Linked DNA regions of Homo sapiens. Each later gene encodes a partner of the first gene's protein in a complex. Each region holds a gene or a part of one and is shown in the gene's direction. Other genes may lie near its edges. The genes, in order: AAR2, PRPF8 and SNRNP40.

The links.
Region 2: AAR2 (region 1) and PRPF8 share a complex: the UniProt entries of both Homo sapiens proteins name them as parts of the U5 snRNP complex.
Region 3: AAR2 (region 1) and SNRNP40 share a complex: the UniProt entries of both Homo sapiens proteins name them as parts of the U5 snRNP complex.

The regions. Positions count from the first base shown.
Region 1 is NC_000020.11:36,231,478-36,239,582, forward strand, and holds the start of AAR2 (protein AAR2 homolog), read left to right. Parts: upstream 1-5,000; 5' UTR 5,001-5,026; exon of another isoform or gene 5,027-5,305; intron 5,306-5,404; exon of another isoform or gene 5,405-5,560; intron 5,561-8,105. UniProt on the Homo sapiens protein: Component of the U5 snRNP complex that is required for spliceosome assembly and for pre-mRNA splicing.
Region 2 is NC_000017.11:1,674,868-1,681,972, reverse strand, and holds part of PRPF8 (pre-mRNA-processing-splicing factor 8), read left to right. Parts: coding exon 1-153; intron 154-282; coding exon 283-495; intron 496-918; coding exon 919-1,044; intron 1,045-1,141; coding exon 1,142-1,247; intron 1,248-2,173; coding exon 2,174-2,364; intron 2,365-2,562; coding exon 2,563-2,682; intron 2,683-2,766; coding exon 2,767-2,956; intron 2,957-3,091; coding exon 3,092-3,211; intron 3,212-3,320; coding exon 3,321-3,455; intron 3,456-4,278; coding exon 4,279-4,408; intron 4,409-4,800; coding exon 4,801-4,997; intron 4,998-5,261; coding exon 5,262-5,468; intron 5,469-5,602; coding exon 5,603-5,766; intron 5,767-5,918; coding exon 5,919-6,045; intron 6,046-6,160; coding exon 6,161-6,353; intron 6,354-6,633; coding exon 6,634-6,821; intron 6,822-7,105. UniProt on the Homo sapiens protein: Plays a role in pre-mRNA splicing as core component of precatalytic, catalytic and postcatalytic spliceosomal complexes, both of the predominant U2-type spliceosome and the minor U12-type spliceosome.
Region 3 is NC_000001.11:31,279,695-31,286,799, reverse strand, and holds part of SNRNP40 (U5 small nuclear ribonucleoprotein 40 kDa protein), read left to right. Parts: intron 1-5,303; coding exon 5,304-5,426; intron 5,427-7,105. UniProt on the Homo sapiens protein: Required for pre-mRNA splicing as component of the activated spliceosome. Component of the U5 small nuclear ribonucleoprotein (snRNP) complex and the U4/U6-U5 tri-snRNP complex, building blocks of the spliceosome.

The DNA.
Region 1 (8,105 bases):
TTTCAACCATGGCTGGCCCATCTGAGAGCATCTCCCCACTCTCGCCAACCTATCGGGGCATAGCCCAGGGATGCCCCCAGGCGGCCCAGGTTAGATGCGTCCCTTTGGCTTGTCAGTGATGACATACACCTTAGCTGCTTAGCTGGTGCTGGCCTGAGGCAGGGCAGGAAATCAGAATAGCATTTGCTTCTCTGGGCAAATGGGAAGTTCAGCGGGGCAGCAGAATCAGTGGCATTCCCCCTGGTGCAGGCCGGTGGGTCCACTCCAACTCCCCCTGAGTGTAGCAGCACACTTTCCATACACCAGGTTCTTTCTACAATCCTGGTGGAAAAGCCACAGAACCTTCTTCCTGCCCTTCTTGAGAGTTCCCCCTCTTTCTGGGTCAAGAGCTGGAGTGGTGGCTCCATCCTCTCTGGGCCACTTCGGTCTAGGAACTCATCTTTGCAGGAACCAGGAGTCCTGAGCACACTGAACACACCTCAGAGGGAGGATCCTTGTTGTGGATTTTGCACCTGGCTTTGGGGCAGGGGTGAAGTGACCAGGCTTAGCTTGTGGAGTTTATGGGCCACCAGGGTTTGGGGAAATCACCATCCCGCGGATGCTGTGACCTCCCTTCTACGGAGATGCAGGCAGTGCCACGAGGGAGGAGGGGACCTGCAAAGCTAGAATCTAGGGCACTGTTTCCTCCCCATCCTTCTCTTTGTAGAGAATAGAGACGTTTGTCTTGTCTGTCTTCAACCTACTTTTCCTTTTCTCTTTTTTGTTTCTCATCCTCTCTGTGCCACCTCTCCACCCAGGAGGCCATGTAGCATAGTGGAAAAAGTCCCTGAGGGCGGTTAGGAGTTCTGGGTGACCATCCTGGCTCAGCTCCTAACTCACCATGTGACATCAGGCTATCCCCATTCCCCCTCTTGGGCCTCAGTTTCCCGACTTGCAAAATAAGCAGAAAGAACCAGATGCTCTCCAGGGTCTTTTTCTACTTTGCTATCTCATGGGTCTTCATTTTCTCTTATTTTGTTTTCTCTGGATCTTTTCCATCTGAGGGTACAGGAAGTACCAGGACCTGTTTCAGTTTTTGAATCCTGCAAGCACATTCCAAGACTGGCCTGAAACTGCATGAGCAACATCACTCGAAATAATTTTTTTTTTCAAAAGCACCTTAACAACCAATTGCGATGCTGTCCTGTTCCTTTTTACTCACACCCTTCTCTCCTTTCTCGTCCCCATGCTCCCCCACCTCAGTGCTCCGTGCTGTATGCGTGTGCTCTCTGTTCTTGTATACTCAATATAAGTGAAATAAATGTGTTTGATGCTGAACCATACTTCCTTGGCACCTCTCCTCTCTCTCTCTCTCTCTCTCTCTCTCTCTCTCTCTCTCACTGTCTCTCTCTGACTTTGGCCACTGGTACAAGTTGGCACTGTGGGAGGGGCTAAAACTGAAGTGGAGACATCCCAACTTAGAACATGTTTATGCAACAAATATTTGGAACTCAAGGTGGTCCAGGCCTTGGGTGACTCTCCAGGCACAACACAAACAAGACAAAAGTCCCTGCCCTTCATGAACCCACAGGCTAGTGGAGGAAACAGATGCCAACACAGGCAAACAGTCCGTTACAGAGCACTCAGCACTAGGAAGGAAATACACCGGGAGAAGGGAAGGAGGGTCACTGAAGGAGACCACTTTAAATACAGTGGCCAGGTAAGGCCTCCCTGAGGAGGCGATCTGTGAGCTGAATGAAAAGAAGGATCAATCAACAAAGGCGAGGAACTTTGGTGCACATTCTAGGAGAGGGAACAGTAAGCATACAGGCCCCAGGACGTGGAGGGGCTTATTGAGCGGAGAAACAGCATGGTCCCTCCTCCTGAAAGAAGAGTACCTACATTGGAGTCTCTCTTCCTGTAACCCCCCTACATGGGAGCCTAGTGGGAAAAAATACAGCAATCCTCAACTTCGGCCTTTGCCCAGAACCTCTATATATGTTCCCATATCCTCATACCACCTGTCCCATTATTCACTTATTTTTCTTTAAATTGACTCAGGTCAAGTGCAGTGGCTCACGCCTGTAATCCCAGCACTTTGAGAGGCTGAGGCAGGCAGATTACCTGAGGTCAGGAGTTCAAGACCAGCCTGGCCCACATAGTGAAATCCCATCTCTACTAAAAATACAAAAAATTAGCCGGGTGTGGTGGTGCACACCTGTAATCCCAGCTACTCGGGAGGCTGAGGCGGGAGAATCGCTTGAACCCAGGAGGCGGAGGTTGCAGTGAGCCGAGATCGTGCTACTGCACTCCAGCCTGGGTGACAGAGAGAGACTCCGTCTCAAAAAAATAATAAAATAAAATAACTAACTAAATAAATTGACTCACGTTAAAAGCAAATGCATTTAAAAAGGAAACTATATTACTTCCACAAATGAAAAGCTTATGTTATTTGCCAAGAAAGGAGGTCTTCATAAAATAAATGCAAAAATATTAAAATTAACAACCACAATGCACTTAAAACCTAAACTCATCCCTTGGACCACCTGAGGTGCACACACCACACTTTCCTTTTATTCCACCAAGCAACTCACCTCAGCCCACCTTTATTGCTGCAAATCTCACCAGCGAGTCTTTTCCATGTGTATGTATTTTTCCAGAGTTGGTCATCTTGTACATACTTTTGTAAATACTTTAAAATATATATATGTACATATATGTATATATATGTACATATATATCTATATACACGTATATATATCCTGAGCATTTCCGTATACTTTCAAATACTAAATACTTATTTTCTTTGGAAAGGTAATTCATTAAATGATACAAAGACTATGCAGTGAAAAGTGATTCTTCAGCCTTCTCCAGATTTCTGTCTCTTGTCAGAGGCAATTGCTGCGAGGAACATTATGAATCCTTCTCTGAATTTTCCCTATAGGTCTCCTTTAGCAATCTGTTATCCCTAGGGTTCTGGAATAGGACTTGGTTTACAAACAATGGGTCTTCATATGATTCCTCAGGACCCCATACACCCTGATCCATATTTCTGTCTCCCATAAAGGACCATCCTGACTCGGCTTTTGTCGAATAATCAAAGGTAAGTTCACCCAGATTAGTGTTTTTCAACTGCATTGAGAGTGGGGAAATGACCCCTCCTCCTTTACCCCCAACCCCCGCCCCGGGGACATTTAGCAATGGTTGTCACAACTGAGGGGTGCTACTAGCTCTAGTGGGTAGACGCCAGGGTTGCTGCTAAACATCCTACAATGCACAGGACAGCCACATACAACAAATACTTATCTGGCCCCAAATGTCAATAGTGCCAAGGTTGAGAAATTCTGATCTAAATGGACATGTGACCCACAAGGTGGGACTCCTAGGCCACCATTTACAGCTTCTACAACCAGTGTTCAGTGTCCTGGAGTCTCTGAAAAGACGGTGAGCCCAACTGAAACAGGGAGCTTTGAGACCAGACCATAGAGCTCAGCACTTAAGACTGGGAGTGGGGAGGGGTGGAGAGGGAGCTGAGCTTCTTCATGCAGGAGATGAAACTTGACAGGACAGGCTGAGATTGGTAAGCATGACTGTGACTGATGGAGGCTGTCTCTGGTTAATCCTGCAGCAGCTCATTGTGATTAACCATGACTGCAGGGCCCGGTCTAGTCTGCAACCCACTAAGAGATAAATTTTGACCGAGACAGATTGGCGTGTCCAGCTGTCACTGAGGAAATGTGACAGACAAGCTAAGGAGCAGCAGCACAAGAGATAAGAACAGACAGCCCTTGGTTTGCATTCTAGCTCTGCCATTCTCTGGCTGTGTAACATCTCTTTGAACCTCAGTTTTCTCTTCTGCAAATTGGGAATACACATACCTTACAAGGGTTAGTGCAAGGATTATAAATACCCAAGTGGGCCGGGCACGGTGGCTCATGCCTGTAATCCCAGCACTTTGAGAGGCCAAGGTGGGCAGATCACCTGAGGTCAGGAGTTCGAAACCAGCCTGGCCAACAAGATGAAACCCCGTCTCTACTAAAAATACAAAAATTAGCCAGGCACGGTGGTGGGCGCCTGTAATCCCAGCTACTTGGGAGGCTGAGGCAGGAGAATGGCTTGAACCCAGGAGGTGGAGGTTGCAGTGAGCCGAGATAGCGCCATTGCACTCCAGCCTGGGTGACAGAGTGAGATTGCGTCTCAAAAAAAGAAATACCCAAGTGGCCTGCCCTAAAATCACATAAGCCAATTCTTGGCAATAAATCACTTAATATAGATCTCCTACTGGCTCTGTATCTTTGGTGGAACCCTGATTAATAGTGCAGGGTTAGACCCACAAATAGTTATTTATTAATACCAAATTATCATCATTATTAATTAAATGCATAATATATGTACTCAGCTGAGCTTTTGTGCCTGGCTTTGTGCTCGGTTCCAGGGAAACAGTGAGGAACAAGACAGGCAGATTCCTTCCCTAGTGCGTTGATAGCCTGACTGAGATGTTAGGACTTGGCCTGCAGGAAGGACACGGGGTGATAATGGCCAGAGGGACTGAGGTGGCGACCGCTGCTGCTGCAGCAGCGGAGGCTGACGCTGGTTCTCTCTGGGCTGGTGGCTGGGTTTCTGAGGCTCTCCCCGAGGGCTGAGTGTGACTGGAAGCTGAGACACTGTGACCGGGATAGAGACTGGCTGACAAAGACAGTGACCGAGCGCCTGACTGGCTACTTCTGAATAGTAGCCACTGGTACAAGCCTTGGCTGTGCTTTAGTGACCATGACTGCTTGAGCCCAAAGTAAGATGGCTGGTGGCTGTGTTTCTGGACGGGGATATAAAATGCATAGGTTAATGAAAGTTGTTCACAATTCAGAAGCTAAAACGAGAAACTAAGAATAACAAAAGGCAACCTTGCATCCGGCGGAACCTGCAGGCACGGGCCATTCTTCCCGCGACCCAGGGCTCTGCCGGACCGCTTCCCCCGTCGCTCCAGTCAGACGCCAAAGCTGGAGAACTTCCGGTGCGTTTCCGCTGTACCGGAACGTGGGGCGAGGCGGTGAGTGTGGCCTCCTGGCCTCTTTTTCCTTTCCTGATTCCTTGTGTATGTGTGGCTGGGCCGCCCCTCTTCTCGGCTCAGAGTCACGGAGTGCCTTGAACTAGGCCCACCTCGCCGGGGCGGCTGGTTCTCTGTTTGTGGGACGCTGGTGTCTCTGGAGGCCCTTCCTGAGAAGCCGTCGCCAGAGTTACGTCGCGGTTTTCTTAACTTTAGAGCCTGGGGGCCGGAGACCCTGATTGCACTCGACCTGGCTCTGCCCTACTCTCTGCGTGACTTCCAGTAAGGTCTTTCCCCGAACTGAGGCTTTGTTTCTCGTTTACAAAATGGATATCATACTTGTATTAAATAAATGTTTACTAAGCGTTGAATCTGTGCTAGGGATACAGCAGGACTCAAGTCTCGTGGCGATGACAGCCTTCAATCAAACATCCAAAACTGCAGTTGTGATCATTGAGACGGAAAGGTACAAGGCACCCCAGATTATATCACAGGAGACCTGACCTAGCCCCAGGGCAAGGAACCTTTACTGAGGAGGTGAATATTGAGCTGAGATCAGAAAAAAGGATTTGACAAAGTGGGGAGGGAAGAGTTTTCTATATGGAGACAGCCTCCAATTTCAGGTTCTGAAAGAGGCCGTTGTGGCTGGAACAGAGAGCTTGTGGGGGACCATTGTGTGACACAAGCTAAAGGGGTTGCCAGGAGTCAGACCGTGCAGGCTTTGTAGGTAATAGGAAGAATTCTGGTTTTTCAAGAACCATATGGGAAACCACTCAGAAGCTGACATGGGTGGTGTTGTGATTAGATTGGCATTTTGAAAAGGTTACTGCTGTTGAATGGAGAATGGGTTGAGGAGCAAGCACTCTGAGTGAGGGACGATGGTAGCTTGGATTAGGGAGGTGGTGGAGAGAAGTGGATGGATGTGACTTTAGGTGTTCCAGGACTGTGAGGAACTCACAGAGCTGTCAGTGACAGGGGCTGGTAGACTGCAGAGTTCTATGCATATTTAATAAACGTTTTCCTAGCATCTCCTCTGTGCTAGGCCCTGTGCCAGCTGCTGGAGATATAGTGAATAGAATTACAGACTGGTGGAATTAGCATGAAAGAAACGTCATTATCAAGGAGGAGCACACAGATGTCACAAGGGAAAATGGCTAATTGATGAGCTGTTATTGTAAATGGAATATCTGTTCATTCAGCAAATATTAAATACTTTCTGAATTCAGGATTACAAATAGGAAGATGATACGTATTATTATTATTATTATTATTATTATTATTATTATTATTATTATTATTTTGAGACGGAATTCGCTCAGACCCCCAGGCTGGAGTGCAGTGGTGTGATCTCAGCTCACTGCAACCTCTGCCTCCCAGGTTCAAGCAATTCTTCTGCCTCAGCTTCTCAAGTAGCTGGGACTACTGGCGCACACCACCATGCGCGGCTAATTTTTTTTGTATTTTTAGTAGAGATGGGGTTTCACAGTATTGGCCAGGCTGGTCTCAAACTCCTGACCTCATTATCCATCCGCCTCGGCCTCCCAAAGTGCTGTGATTACAGGCGTGAGCCACCACGCCCGGCCTGTTGATACGAATTATTTAGAGCAGAGTCTTTCAAACTTTTATGACTGTGACCTACAGTAACGAATACATTTTATGGCACAACCAAGTATACACACAAACACACAAAGCTCCAGAAAACAGTACTTAGCTTTACTACTCATGATGTATTGTGATATTTCAAAAATTCTGTTATTTTCGTTTAAAAAATAATGCTGGTTGAGACCTTCACATTGATTTCCTAATCCACTAATGGATTGTGACTTGCAGTTTGGTGAAACACAAAGTGCTGATTCAGGGTAAGAGTCATTTGTGGTGGTTTTGAGGTAACAATGATAAAATGTGCTCTTATTTTTGGAAAAGGATTGGTCTTCCTTTCTGCACTGCTTTATTTAAAGTAAAAAGGGTAAACAGGGCCAGGCATGGTGGCTCACACCTGTTATCTCAGCACTTTGGGAGGCCGAGGCGGGCAGATCACTGAGGTCAGGAGTTCCAGACTAGCCTAGGCCACATGGTGAGACCCTCTCTGTACTAAAAATACAAAACTTAGCCAGGTGTGGTGGCACACACCGGTAGTCTCAGCTGCTTGGGAGGCTGAGGCACAAGAATTGCTTGAACCCGGGAGGTGGACGATGTAGTGAGCCGAGATCACGCCACTGCACTCCAGCTGGGGTGACAGAGCGAGACCCTGTCTCAAAAAAAAAAAAAAAAAAAGTAAACAATTAAACAGGCAGCTCGTTTTTCTGTGTGTGAAATTTTGACGTCTTGGCTAGATTGGAATTGCCTAGAGGGCAGTGACTGTCTTAATCTGTGATGTTTTTTGGGGGCCTGGCAAAGATCCTGGCACAATGCAGGCACTCAGTGAGTATTTGTTAAATTAGTCAGGTAGGTATCTTAGGACTAGAAGGTTGCATAATGGTTTGTTTACATTTGTTCATGTTGGTACCATTCTTGCCGATATCCCAGAGGCAATGTCTGGGATATTCAGAAGTAGGTAAAATAAGTGTACTAAGCTCTTTCTCTTCTGGCCAGCTTTCTCTTCCTAGGCTAGCTTTACCACCTGAATTCATTCTGGATGAATGGTCCAGAGCCACCACTGATTGTGGGCTCTTTGGGAAGTTGTTTCACTCCCTGGAGTTTAGGTTTTTTATGAGTGAAAGAAGAGGGGAGATTTGTGGTAGGAAAGCTCTCTAGACCCTGAACAAACTTTAGATGCTGAGCCTCCACTTGCTACCGTCTGTCCATTTCTGGGCCTTCCCTGAGGCTTATGGGAAACTGGATATGTACTTGATTTAATCTTTCCAAATCTTTTGGGATAGTTTTTTGGCAGAATTGTAGTTTTAAATGATGTAGGCATATAGTTTAGAGTGACCTGTCCAGGCATTTTCCACCCTCACCCTCTGTTGTGAGAAAGAGATCTGAGAAGATATTAAGAATGGACGGTGGACAGAACACTGGCCTGCAGGCAGGGTATCCAGATTCTAATTTGGGTCCTGGTATGACCATGAGCATGTCACTTTTC
Region 2 (7,105 bases), on another chromosome or scaffold:
CCCTTTTGATGATGAGGAGCCGCCCTTGGACTATGCTGACAACATCCTAGATGTTGAGCCACTGGAGGCCATTCAGCTAGAGCTGGACCCTGAGGAGGACGCCCCTGTGTTGGACTGGTTCTATGACCACCAGCCGTTGAGGGACAGCAGGAAGTGAGTGATAGATGGAGATACTACACCTGGGAGGAGTTCTGGAAATGCAGAAGGAGTCCTGGGAGATCAGTAGGTGGTATGGGTTTGTCTAGCTGCTTACTTGAGGTGGGCCTTTCATTTTTTACCTAGGTATGTAAATGGCTCCACTTACCAGCGCTGGCAGTTCACACTACCTATGATGTCGACTCTCTACCGCCTGGCTAATCAGCTCCTGACAGACTTGGTGGATGACAACTACTTCTACCTGTTTGATTTGAAGGCCTTCTTTACGTCCAAGGCACTCAATATGGCCATTCCTGGAGGCCCCAAATTTGAACCTCTTGTTCGAGACATCAACCTACAGTGAGTTGGAGAGATTAGGGATTTTAGACATTTTGAGTTGAATGAAACGTAATCTTGATCCTTAAAGTCCTGATATAACTTCCAAATTAGTCTGTTTACACCAGGTGCAGTGGCTCACGCTGTAATCTCAGCACTTTGGGAAGCTGAGGCAGGAGGATTGCTTGAGCCCAGAAGTTTGAGACCAATCTGGGCAAAATGGCAAAACCCTATCTTTACCAAAAAATGTAGCTGGGCGTGGTGACACTCACAGCTTCGTGTAGTCTCAGTTACTTGGGAAGCTGAGCTGTGGGAGGATTGTTTGAGCCCAGGAGGTCACGGCTGCAGTGAACGATGATCATGCCATTGCATTCCAGCTTGGGTGATAAGAGTGAGACCCTGTCTCAAAAAAAAAAAAGTCTGCTTATTCTTGATGTTGTACCCTAGGGATGAAGACTGGAATGAATTCAATGATATTAACAAGATTATCATCCGGCAGCCTATCCGCACTGAGTACAAGATTGCTTTTCCTTACTTGTACAACAATCTTCCACACCATGTCCACCTCACCTGGTAAGAGACCTGGAACACAACATTTGGAAAGGAGAAGGCTGCTGTTTAGGTTGGGCCAGGGCGGGAAAACTTTGGCTGACTCTTCCTTTCATTTTAGGTACCATACTCCCAATGTTGTATTCATCAAAACTGAGGATCCTGACTTGCCAGCTTTCTACTTTGACCCTTTGATCAACCCAATCTCCCATAGGCACTCAGTCAAGGTGAGGAAGGGAAGGGATGCTTTCCCTCAGCTCTTCTAGGAGAAATGCGTGAGGTTGGCTGATGTTACTAAACGCTCAGGTGGAGGGAGATGTGTTTTCCGTCTTGCTAAGTGTTCCCCTTGAGCTATAAGCGAATATGAGAATTCAGCATTTGCTTTAAAACATGTCATTGGTATAATCCTGTTTTCTGTGATTATCCTTTTGGACTTTACGGTTCTTTTCTTGGGTGCTCTAGATAATCTGTCCCGGTCTGTCTCTATTGTGTTTGTTTGTTTTAGCCTTTATATTGAGATGTAGTTAACATACCATACAAGTTATCCATTTAAAGTGTGTAATTTGATGGTTTTTAGCTTATTCTCAGAGTTGTCCCAACTGTCACGACATGCAATTTGAGAATATTTTTATTACTTGAGAAAGAAACCCTTAGCAGTTACTCGCCATTTCTCCCCAACTTCCTTACGCAACCACTAATCTACTTTCTGTCTATAGATTTGGCTATTCTACACATTTCATATGATAGAATGAAATAGAATCGTACACTATGTAGTCTTCAGTGACTGGCTTCTTAAGCTTACCATAATGTTTTTGATGCTCATCTGTGTTCCGTTGTGTCCAAGCCCAGTGTTTGGAGCTTGGGTGGGAGATGATTGCAATGTTGACCTCCTGTGATGTTGGGGCTCCATTGGGAGGCTTTCTGGTGGTCAGCCAGTTGAGGTGTGAGAAGTGACGCTTGCTTTCCTGGTGGCCCTGTCTTGTTCTTTGCTGTCTTGGTTTCCTTTGTGCTGGCACTTCAGGGCTGCTTTTGTCAGACAGCCCAGTTTCCATAGCAGATACAGGCTTTGTGCTTGGCCCCAGAGAATTTCCCTCATCTTAAGTCTGTGCCTAGTTCAGCAGGAGCTAAACCCTTAGAGGGATTCCTTTTTCAGAGCCAGGAACCATTGCCGGATGATGATGAGGAATTTGAGCTCCCGGAGTTTGTGGAGCCCTTCCTGAAGGACACACCCCTCTATACAGACAATACAGCCAATGGCATTGCCCTGCTCTGGGCCCCGCGGCCCTTCAACCTACGCTCTGGTCGCACCCGTCGGGCCCTGGACATACCCCTTGTCAAGAACTGGTAAGGTTTTTCCCTGTGGCAGGGGGAATGATAGTGGATGTGTAGGAGAAAAGACTCCAACTAGGTGGGCATGTAGCCTTTTTTTTAAATTCTTTTTTTTTTTTTCCCATAAAAATGGTAGACAACCCAAGGCTTGCAGCCTTTAGCAGAGTGTCTGGAAGAAGAGATGGCCAAACTCTGGTGGGCTTATTTTTCCAGGTATCGGGAGCATTGTCCTGCCGGGCAGCCTGTGAAAGTGAGGGTCTCCTACCAGAAGCTGCTTAAGTACTATGTGCTGAATGCCCTGAAGCATCGGCCCCCTAAGGCTCAAAAGAAGAGGTAAGGTGCCCCAGGGGCCCTGCGCAGACTTCTGTTCCAGAGATATCAGTAGGCTGACTCTTACTCTCCATGTTCCCACCTCAGGTATTTGTTCCGCTCCTTCAAAGCCACCAAATTCTTTCAGTCCACAAAGCTGGACTGGGTGGAGGTTGGGCTCCAGGTTTGCCGCCAGGGCTACAACATGCTCAACCTTCTCATTCACCGCAAAAACCTCAACTACCTGCACCTGGACTACAACTTCAACCTCAAGCCTGTGAAAACGCTCACCACCAAGGTGCCTGCATTGGACCCTAGGGGCCTCCTGGGCTTCAAGGACGGACAGTTGTTTTCCTCTGGTTACTGATGAAGGCATACATCAGTTGGGTCCATTGCTCATTCACGTTCTGTCTGTTTTTTGCATCTTCTCCAGGAAAGAAAGAAATCTCGTTTTGGGAATGCTTTCCACCTGTGTCGGGAAGTTCTGCGTTTGACTAAGCTGGTGGTGGATAGTCACGTGCAGTATCGGCTGGGCAATGTGGATGCCTTCCAGGTAAGGTTAGGTATTCCCAACCCCTGCCTGGGTGAGGACGCTGGAGGAAGCCTGTGCTGACCGTGGAGCTGGTTTAAGCTCCAGGTCTGATGGGGCAATTGTATTGCAGCTGGCAGATGGATTGCAGTATATATTTGCCCATGTTGGGCAGTTGACGGGCATGTATCGATACAAATACAAGCTGATGCGACAGATTCGCATGTGCAAGGACCTGAAGCATCTCATCTATTATCGTTTCAACACGGTGAGACCTTGACTTTACTGACTTTCTTTTTTTTGAGACAGAGTCTTACTCTTGTCTCTTGGGCTGGTGTGCAATGGCACGATCTTGGCTCACTGCAACCTCCGCCTCCTGAGTTCAAGCAATTCTCCTGCCTCAGCCTCCCGAGTAGCTGGGATTACAGGTGCCCGCCACCACGCCTGGCAATTTTTTTTTTGTTTTGTTTTGAAACTGAGTCTTTCTCTGTTGCCCCAGCTGGAGTACAATGGCACGATCTTGGCTCACCACAGCCTCCGCCTCCCGGGTTGAAGTGATTCTCCTGCTTCAGCCTCCCAAGTAGCTGGGACTACAGGCGCGCACCACCATGCCTGGCTAGTTTTTGAAATTTTAGTAGAGATGGGGTTTCACTGTATTGGCCAGGCTGGTCTTGAACTCCTGACCTCAGGTGATCCACACTCCTCGGCCTCCCAAAGTACTGGGATTACCAGCGTGAGTCACCGTGCCCAGCCTCACTGGACTTAACTTTCTCAGATCTTTTTTCATGTATACATTTAGACAGGGCTCTTTCCAGGGACCTATTTGGAGAGCAGCTATGACTGTGTCCTTACTGCTCCTTTAAATTCACATGGGCGATCTTAGTTCCTGGTTTTTGCCTTAAGGTTTCTCATTTACCCTTTTGTTTTAGATGTTGAGGTCCCAGAGTTTTTTTTTCTTTTTACCCCTCTACTGCCATACCTACATTCCTCTGTATGTATATTATACATATATGCCCCACCTCTGCCCAGGTTTCTATTGTTGTTTAAATGCATTGCTAACTTGTATTCTTAACTTCTGCTTGGGATCGTAGGGCCCTGTAGGGAAGGGTCCTGGCTGTGGCTTCTGGGCTGCCGGTTGGCGAGTCTGGCTCTTTTTCATGCGTGGCATTACCCCTTTATTAGAGCGATGGCTTGGCAACCTCCTGGCCCGGCAGTTTGAAGGTGAGTGGTTTTCTCTGTGTCCAACTTCTCCTGTTATTGCTTCAAAAGTACCTGCCCCTGTTTGAGTCTGTTCCCTGCTCTTGTATGAGCACTCTTCCTACTGGATTGCCTTTAGGTCCAGTTCTGAAATGAGTCTGACCTAGTATTCTATTTCTTGGGCTTCCTTCTGGGGCCTTGAGAGGCAGTCATGCATTTGCAGGAGTGGAAATTCCTCAGAAGCATAGTTGTGAATGTTTAAGGTAGCTCGTCTTTTTGCATATGCTGGGCACAGGGACGCTTTGTTAATACCTAATTTTATTAATAACCATAATGAGTGAGGAGCATGAAGGTAGAGACCCTTATTGAAAGCAAGGAATCTTCCTTGTAATCCCCTTGGGACACTCTACTTCCAGGTCGACACTCAAAGGGGGTGGCAAAGACAGTAACAAAGCAGCGAGTGGAGTCACATTTTGACCTTGAGCTGCGGGCAGCTGTGATGCATGATATTCTGGACATGATGCCTGAGGGGATCAAGCAGAACAAGGCCCGGACAATCCTGCAGCACCTCAGTGAAGCCTGGCGCTGCTGGAAAGCCAACATTCCCTGGAAGGTGGGTGTCTCTTTATTTCCTTGGAGGCGTAAACATCCGTCTTTAGGGTAGGATTACCACTTCGGGAATCATTAGGGGGCTATCTGGCTCCAATCTCTTTTCTTTTCCCTTTTAGACAGGGAAAAGAAGCACCATGTTGCTTAGGCTGGCCTCAAGCTCCTGAGCTCAAGCGATCCTCCTTAGCCTCCTGAGTAGCCGGGACTACAGATGTGTGCCACAGTGCCTGGCTGGATCCTGGCTTGATTGTGCTTTTTGGACTTTTAGGTCCCTGGGCTGCCGACGCCCATAGAGAATATGATCCTTCGATACGTGAAGGCCAAGGCTGACTGGTGGACCAACACTGCCCACTACAACCGAGAACGGATCCGCCGAGGGGCCACTGTGGACAAGACTGTTTGTAAAAAGAATCTGGGCCGCCTCACCCGGCTCTATCTGAAGGCAGAACAGGAGCGGCAGCACAACTACCTGAAGGTTGGGCAGAGTAGGCTGGGCTGGGTGTGAGTGGTGGGGGAGTGGGCAAGAGGGAGGACTGTAGAGTTGTGACTGAACCTTGTTCTGGCAGGATCGGGCTGTAGCGGGAGGCTAATTTCATGTCCACCTTACAGGACGGGCCTTACATCACAGCGGAGGAAGCAGTGGCAGTATATACCACCACAGTGCATTGGTTGGAAAGCCGCAGGTTTTCACCCATCCCATTCCCCCCACTCTCCTATAAGCATGACACCAAGTTGCTCATCTTGGCATTGGAGCGGCTCAAGGAAGCTTATAGGTGAGTAGTAGGGTAGATAGGTTCCTGCTGGGAAGGTGACAGCAGGGAATGGCGTCATCCTCAGAGTCCAAAGAAAGAAGGTGTAGCCCCAGTCTTTCCTGGTTTTACTTCCTCCTAGTTTTCCCATTCACCCTTCCCATTGCTTTTGTCAGTGTGAAGTCTCGGTTGAACCAGTCTCAGAGGGAGGAGCTAGGTCTGATCGAGCAGGCCTACGATAACCCCCACGAGGCGCTGTCCCGCATCAAGCGTCACCTCCTCACACAGAGAGCCTTCAAAGAGGTGAGTGAGGCCTCCCAAGTTTTCTTTTTGGTTCTACCAAAGGTAGCAGTTGCCTTTGGTTCTACCAAAGGTAGCAGTTGGTGGATTGGTGTGAACCAGCCTCCTTGTCCCACAGGTGGGCATTGAGTTCATGGATCTGTATAGCCACCTCGTTCCAGTATATGATGTTGAGCCCCTGGAGAAGATAACTGATGCTTACCTGGACCAGTACCTGTGGTATGAAGCCGACAAGCGCCGCCTGTTCCCACCCTGGATTAAGCCTGCAGACACAGAACCACCTCCGCTGCTTGTTTACAAGTGGTGTCAAGGTAGAACTTTCATGAGATCGCCCTGTGAGGAACGGGGCAGGAATTTAGTTCTACGTCAAAAATCTCATCTGGGTAGCATGATTGGTTTACTCTCTTGATGCGTGGTAGTAAAGGGAAGTAGTGTTCGTGTTAAACTGAGGAAAAGCCCATAGTCAAAGCAATCCAAATGAATACGTGGAATCATAGTGGGATTGGTTATGGAAGGTAATGATAGTTCCTGTGGGGCTAGTCTTGCAAGAGGATTTCTAACCTGCTGGAGACCTGCCTTGCTACTCCTCAGGCATCAATAACCTGCAGGACGTGTGGGAGACGAGTGAAGGCGAGTGCAATGTCATGCTGGAATCCCGCTTTGAGAAGATGTATGAGAAGATCGACTTGACTCTGCTCAACAGGCTGCTGCGCCTCATCGTGGACCACAACATAGCCGACTACATGACAGCCAAGAACAACGTCGTCATCAACTATAAGGTGCGTCTCAGGCGCAGTAGCATGGAATTGTGTGTGGAGTGCTTGTCTGGCCCACTGACTCAGAATTTGCTGAGGAGGAGGCTGGGTGCGGTGGCTCATGCCTGTAATCCCAGCACTTTGGGAGGCTGAGGCGGGCAGATCACGAGGTCAGGAGTTCGAGACCAGTCTGGCCAACATGGTGAAACCCCGTCTCTACTTAAAAAAATACAAAAATTAGTTGGGTGTGGTGGTGGGCGCCTGTAATCCCAGCTACTTGGGAGGCTGAGGCAGGAGAATCACTTGAA
Region 3 (7,105 bases), on another chromosome or scaffold:
GCATCCACACTGGGCAGGGCAGTACATTGTAGGGAGTAGTCAGAGAGTGAGGAAGGCATCCATACAACACAGGGTAGGTAACCAGTGTGGGGAATTTGAGGGTGAGGGAGGGGCAGCAGCCCAACAGTGCCCTAATGGGGTGAAAGGGTCGCCTGTACGTGAAGCAGTACGGGGAGAATGTGGATGTCAAAGCCTGAACTGAGGGCATCCACACAGGGTAGAAATGATTTGGTGTAGGGAGTCTGAGACTGAGCAAGATGATGACTGCATGCTTGGAGAAGTGCAGACTGGAAAAGAGCCGTAGCAGAGTGATGAGGGTGTTCACACAGAGGAATGACCCAAGTTGGTTAAGGAAGAGTCACACATGGCTTCAACCAAGAATGGGAATCACAATTCAAGTAGGGAAGGGTGGAAGAGAATATGGGAAACTGGTTGCATGCAGGAAGCATAATCAAATAAGTGAATATATTGAATTTAATGGGAGGCTGATTTCTCTGTCCAAGAACAGAGTTACCAGTACAAAAGAGAAGACTAAAATGAATCTTGTGTGAGGTATAAGTGTGAACTCACAATATTCAATATAGAAACATATAGAAAAAAATAGACATAAATGTGTGAGTGTGTGTGTGTGTGTACCTAAATGTACATATATTGCCTGACTGTCCACTGAAAAGGTTTAGGAGCAACAAGACCCCAATAGCAATAGCACCCCTTACTGCACAGGTACTGTTTTCCATTAAAAGGAACCAGGGCTCCTATTTCAGCCCAGGGGCAGTGAAAGTACAAGATAAGCCTTGTACTTGTCAAGGCTTATTTTGTCAAAAGAACATCCTAACTAAATTATCAAATCGACCTAATTAGTAATGGGACAAGACAAAATCATGAACCATTTGCTAGGATACAACAAAGATGCAGCATCATTTCTGTGATATTCCTACCAAAGATGTATAACTTAAATCTAATCAAGAGGAAACATAAGACAAACCTAAATTGGGGATGATGACCTGTAACTTTCAGAAGTGTTGAGTTCATAAAACTCAAGGAAAGTTTGAGAGAGTCTTGCAGACTGGAGTCTAAATTTAACATATGATTCCAGACTGAATCCTTGTGCAATAAGACATTTGGGATAACTGGTAAAACTTGAGTGGGATTTGAGGATAAAATGGTGATAGTGTATCTGTATTTCTTGATTTTGATGGTTATGTTGAGATGATGTAGGAGAACATCTTTGTAGGACAGACACTATTTAGGAGTGATAAGGGGCCAGGTGCAGTGGCTTATGCCTGTAATCCTAGCACTTTGGGAGGCCTAGGCAGGTGGATCACTTGAGGTCGGGAGTTTGAAACCAGCCTGGCCAACTTGAAGAAACCCTGTCTCTACTAAAAATACAAAAAAGCCGGGCATGGTGGCAGATGCCTGTAATACCAGCTACTCAGGAGGCTGAGGAAGAATTGCTTGAACCCGGGAGGTGGAGGTTGCAGTGAGCGGAGATCACGCCACTGCACTCCAGAATGAGCAACAGACAGAGTGAGACTCCCATCTCAAAAAAAAAAAAAAGGTGATAAGGCATTGGGTAAGCAACTTACTCTCAAATGATTTAGACCAAAAAAAGTGTTCTTTTTACTTCCAAGTTTTCTATAAATTTATGATTGCTTCAAAGTAAAATAATTATTAAAAGTGGTAGTTATCTGGAACTAAAATTCTAAATTATTTTAAACAAACTTTGACTACCATGACTTTTAGGAGAAAGACAAAGATAGATTTGACCTGAGTGAAGTATCTATTGAGACAAAGATTATAGTACAGTTTATAAAATATATAGGATCTAAATTATTAAGGCCTTGAATTCCAGGTTAAGAAGTTTGGACTTGATTCTGTAACCACAGGAGTTGGGGGAGTAGGAGATGTTGGGCATGTAGGAGAGGAGTGAAGCGTTCTTTTTAGACCATTTATCTGAGTAATGAACTAATTTTTAGTTCGTATTTACATGAACAAAGAAGAAACTACTTTTCATCCTAAACCATGAGAATTGGGAGGAAGAGGCATCTTGGCACAGATCCTACTCAGACTCTCCTTGTTGACTACAGGATTGAAGTTAAGCCTATGACCTTCCCTAAAGTTCCATGGCTGATTCCTTTCTTTTTGATGCCAGCCCTTTAAAACTTGGAACAGTCATCCCAAAGTCTCTTTCTTCTGAATGAAACGACCCATACTTTTAAATCATTTACTTGTGGTTCATCTTCTCAAGTGTGTCATTCATTTATTGAAACATCTCTGAGCCCTCTCTGTGTTATCCACGCTTTAAAAAAGTAGAGCTATAAGGGTTTGTTTGTTTAAGAGATGGGGTCTTGGCCGGGTGCAGTGGCTCACGCCTGTAATCCCACCACTTTGGGAGGCCAAGGTGGGTGGATCACCTGAGGTCAGGAGTTCGAGACCAGCCTGGCCAACATGGTGAAACCCCCGTCTCTTCTAAAAATAGAAAAATTAGCTGGGCGTGGTGGCGCATGCCTGTAATCCCAGCTATCCAGGAGGCTAAAGCAGGAGAATTGCTGGAACACGGAAGCAGAGGTTGCAGTGAGCCGAGATGCCGCCACTCTCACCCAGGCTGGAGTACAGATCCGCAATCACGGCTCACTGCAGCCTCAACCTCTCTGGCCCAAGCGATCCTCCCATCTCAGCCTCCCAAGTAGCTGGGACTATAGGCATATACCACCACACCCAACTTTTTGTTTTTATTTTGTAGAGATGAGGAATCACCATGTTGCTCAGGCTGGTCGCTAACTCTGGGCTAAAGCCATCCTCCTGGCCTCGGCCTCCGAAAGTGCTGGGGTTACAGGCATGAGCCACCATACCTGGCCCTCTAAGAATTTTATAGTTTTAGCTCTTACATTTAGGTCCTTGATCCATGTTGAATTAATTTTTGTGTATCATGTTAGGCAGGGGCTTACCTTCATTCTTTGGCATGTGGTTAGCCAGTTGTCTTAGCACAATTTGTTGAGAAGACTACTTTTTCCTTCTATATGGACCATAGTTACTTGCTTCTTTGCATGCCTTATATTTTGTTGAAAACTAGGCATTTAAATATTATAGCGTGGTGACTCTGGAAATTAGGTCCCCAGAGCTGCTTATTGTAGTTGTTTGTTTAGTGACTTTCTGTGGGTTGGGGTAAGGTGAGAGTGGTTGGTTGGTTGGTTTTTGAGACGAAGTCTCGCTCTGTAGCCCAGGCTGGAGTGCAGTAGTGCGATCTTGGCTCACTGCAACCTCCACTCCCCGGGTTCAAGTGATTCTTGCACCTCAGCTTCCTGAGTAGCTGGGGTTACAGGGGCACACCACCATGACCAGCTAATTTTTGTATTTTTAGTAGAAACAAGGTTTTACCATGTTAGCCACGCTGGTCTTGAACTCCTGACCTCAAGTGATCCATCCACCTCGGCCTCCCAAAATGCTGGGATTACAGGTGTAAGCCACCATGCCCGGCCTGTTTAGTGAATTTTTGAACTAATTTTGTAAAGTTTGTATTCTTTGTCCTGTGTGACCACTGAATTCTTTTTTTCGTTAGCTTAGTGGTCAGCTAGTGAATGACACAAGTTTCCTAAATTACCTACAACAACAAGAACAAAAATTCTCCCAGTCTTTGCAGATTGTCTTTTTGTATGTTGGAGCCTGCCTTCAACTCCTTGCCATGCAGTTTACATCTCTCCTTAGCTTTCACTTCCTGCTTGTGCAGAGCCTGAAGGTGAACCAGAGAGCTTACGGCCTTCTCAGATCTTTTCTAAGTATGTGCCCAGCCCTGGACATGCAAGTGGTCTAGATTGCCAGGAATGGGCCAGGCGTGGTGGCTCATGCCTGTAATCTTAGCACTTTGGGAGGGTGAGGCAGACAGATCACTTGAGGCCAGGAGTTTGAGACCAGCCTGGTCAACGTGGCGAAACCCTGTCTCTACTAAAAATACAAAAATTAGCTGGGCATAGTGGCACACGCCTGTAATCCCACCTACTCGGGAGGCTGAGACATGAGAATTGCTTGAGCCCGTGAGGTGGAGGTTGCAGTGAGCCAAGATCGCACCACCGCACTCCGGCCTGGGTGACAGAGGGAGAGTCTGTCCCTAGATAGATAGATAGATAGAGATTAGATAGATAGATAGACACATAGATACATAGATAGATAGATATAGATGATAGAAAGATAGATAGATAGATAGATAGATAGATAGATAGATAGATAGATAGATAGATAGATAGCCTAGGCGACAGAGGGAGAGTGTGTCCCCAGATTAGATAGATAGATAGATAGATAGATAGATAGATAGATAGATACATAGATAGATAGATAGCCAGGAATATGTCGGTGCTTTTCGAAGCTCTTATTCCCCAAATTGTCTCCTTCCCCAGCCCTTCCTCCCAAGGTTTTTGGTTTGTATTTTTGCCCCAACTGTTTTTCCTTGCCCCCAGGAACCAGAGGCTAATAATGTCCTTTCCTTTAAATGTTTTCAAGGGAAGTTCCAAGTTAGGCAAAATAAATGTAAGTCCTTTGGGCTCATCCTTCAGAGAGCCACCAGACAGGTAAAAATAAACAATTTTTATTGTTTATTCTTTGACAATAAGAAATAGGCCCCCTTTGCTTCCTCAGTACTAGGAAACCATACTGGGAATATGGGTTATCTTCAAAGCTGTTGCTGAGCAGGAGACAGAGCCAGCACAAGTTAAAACACTACAAAGCCCTTTTACTGGGACTCAGGGAGTTTTTTGTTTCCTTTTTCCTCATTAAGGGTTTGCCGGGTTACTATAAACTTTTGATTAGTTTTGAGAGTTCCAACAGTTGATTCTGACAGATTTTGCTGGTTAATTTGCTGCTTTCGTGGAGGGACAAGCTTTTGTCATTGTTTATTATACTATTTTCACTGACATACCCTCTATTTTTTTAAATGTGGGTTGCAGCCTACTAATGAATTAGTCTCTACGGTTTGAAAAAATTGTCTGATATCCTTGTTGTTCTAAAAAATATATGAACTAAGTAGTTAGGGGAATTCCATTCTAAGAGTATGTTGATTTAACTCTGTTCACTTCAACAAAGAAGTCTGAAAATATAACCGAAGTTTTGTTTCACCAGCCTTCAAATGTCTTGGCAAAATTGAGCACACTGCTTACCATGTGTGTTATTAGGATATCCAGGAGTTAGTGATATAGGATCCCAATTATAGATGTGTTCATGTCCACAAAGTCCTCGTACTTAAGGGATATTTGTACTGTGCAATTGCTTCTTAGAATGATGTTGCTGATAGACTGTCTTGTCCTTTGCTTCAGCTTTGGGACATCCGGAAGAAAGCAGCCATCCAGACATTTCAGAACACGTACCAGGTGTTAGCTGTGACCTTCAATGACACAAGTGATCAGATTATTTCTGGTGGAATAGACAATGATATCAAGGTATGTTTGATGTTTATGATATATTTCCATTTCATCTATCTGCACTTAGAAACGAATTTTTTCAAACTTCTGAGATTGTGGTAGCTTTGCACTTAATACCAACTGAAAGGAAAATAGTAACTTGGAACTTATTTTCTTTTTCTCCTGTCTTCATTGACTTCCTAAATTAAAGTTTGCATTGCAGATCTTATAAATGCTGTCAGGGACCAGGCACTTAATGTGAAGTGTGAAGTCTCTGTAGGGGGACTATGTAAAAAATAAAGAGTGCATTTCCTTTTAAAGACATTCAAAATCTTTTTTTAACCATCTTGGTTTAAAGAGAGCAGTGAATCAGTTTGTGATTCTGTATCCTCATCTCTCACTGTGTTTTTCTTTTTGACACTATGGAAAGAGAGTTTTCTAAGTTTCTCTAAGAATGAGAGAAGGTAATGATATTAAAGAGGCAATAGACCATATGGCAGTAGAGTGTAGCTCAAACTTTCAAGTAATTGACTTGGGTTCTAATCCCAGTTTCACCATTTTCTAGTTTTGTGACTTCAAGCACCTTCTTTAAGCCTCTTTTTCTTGTGTGAATGGTGAGGGGGTAATGATAAAAAAAAAAAAAAACAGTAGCATCTACCACATACCATTGTGGGGATTAAATGAGCCTGATTCATTAGAGCACTTAGCAGAATTCCTGGACATAACAAGTGCCAGGAAATGTATTATTTTGGGCCTGCACAGCTTCTGTCTTCCTTTCCTCTTGGCTTCCTTGGGGATCTTAACGACTTTGACCTTACCTTCTGCTTTATAGTAAGAAGAGTAACTGTCAGATACTCAACTTTCTGTGTTGTCCTTACCTAGAAGTTGTACTGTATTTCCATCCCTCATTGTTTCCTTTGCTGTTACTTTGGATGAAATATCCTTGCTTTTGGCCAGGTGTGGTGGCTCACACCTGAAATCCCTGCACTTTGGGAGGCCGAGGCGGGTGGATCACAAGGTCAGGAGACCGAGACCGTCCTGGCCAATGTGGTGAAACCTCGTCTCTACTGAAAATACAAAAATTAGCTGGATGTGATGGTGGTGTGCCTGTAATCCCAGCTACTCAGGAGGCTAAGGCAGGAGATTACTTGAACCTGGGAGTCAGAAGTTGCGGTGAGCTGAGATCACGCCACTGCACTCCAGCCTGGCCACGGAGCAAGACTCCATCTCCAAAAAAAAAAAGAAAGGAATATCCTTGCTTTTGTCTAAAGGTAGTCCTTTTTTTTTTTTTTTTTTTTTGAGTCAGAGTCTTCCTCTGTAGCCCAGGCTGGAGTGCAGTGGTGCTATCTCAGCTCACTGCAACCTCTGCCTCCTGGGTCCCAGTTCAAGCAATTCTCCTGCCTCAGCCTCCTGAGTAGCTGGGATTACAGGCACGTGCCACCATGCCCAGCTAATTTTTGTATTTTTTAGTAGAGACAGGGTTTCACCATGTTGGGCAGGCTTATCTCGAACTCCTGACCTTGTGATCCACCTGCCTCGGCCTCCCAAAGTGCTGGGATTACGGGTGTGAGCCACCGTGCCCGGCCTAAAGGTAGTCCTTTAAATGTGAGGGTTTCAATCCTTCGTCACTTCTTTCAACCTCTTCTTTTCTACTTTTCTTTTTTTTGAGACAGAGTCTCACTCTGTCGCCCAGACTTGAATGCAGTGGCGTGATCTTG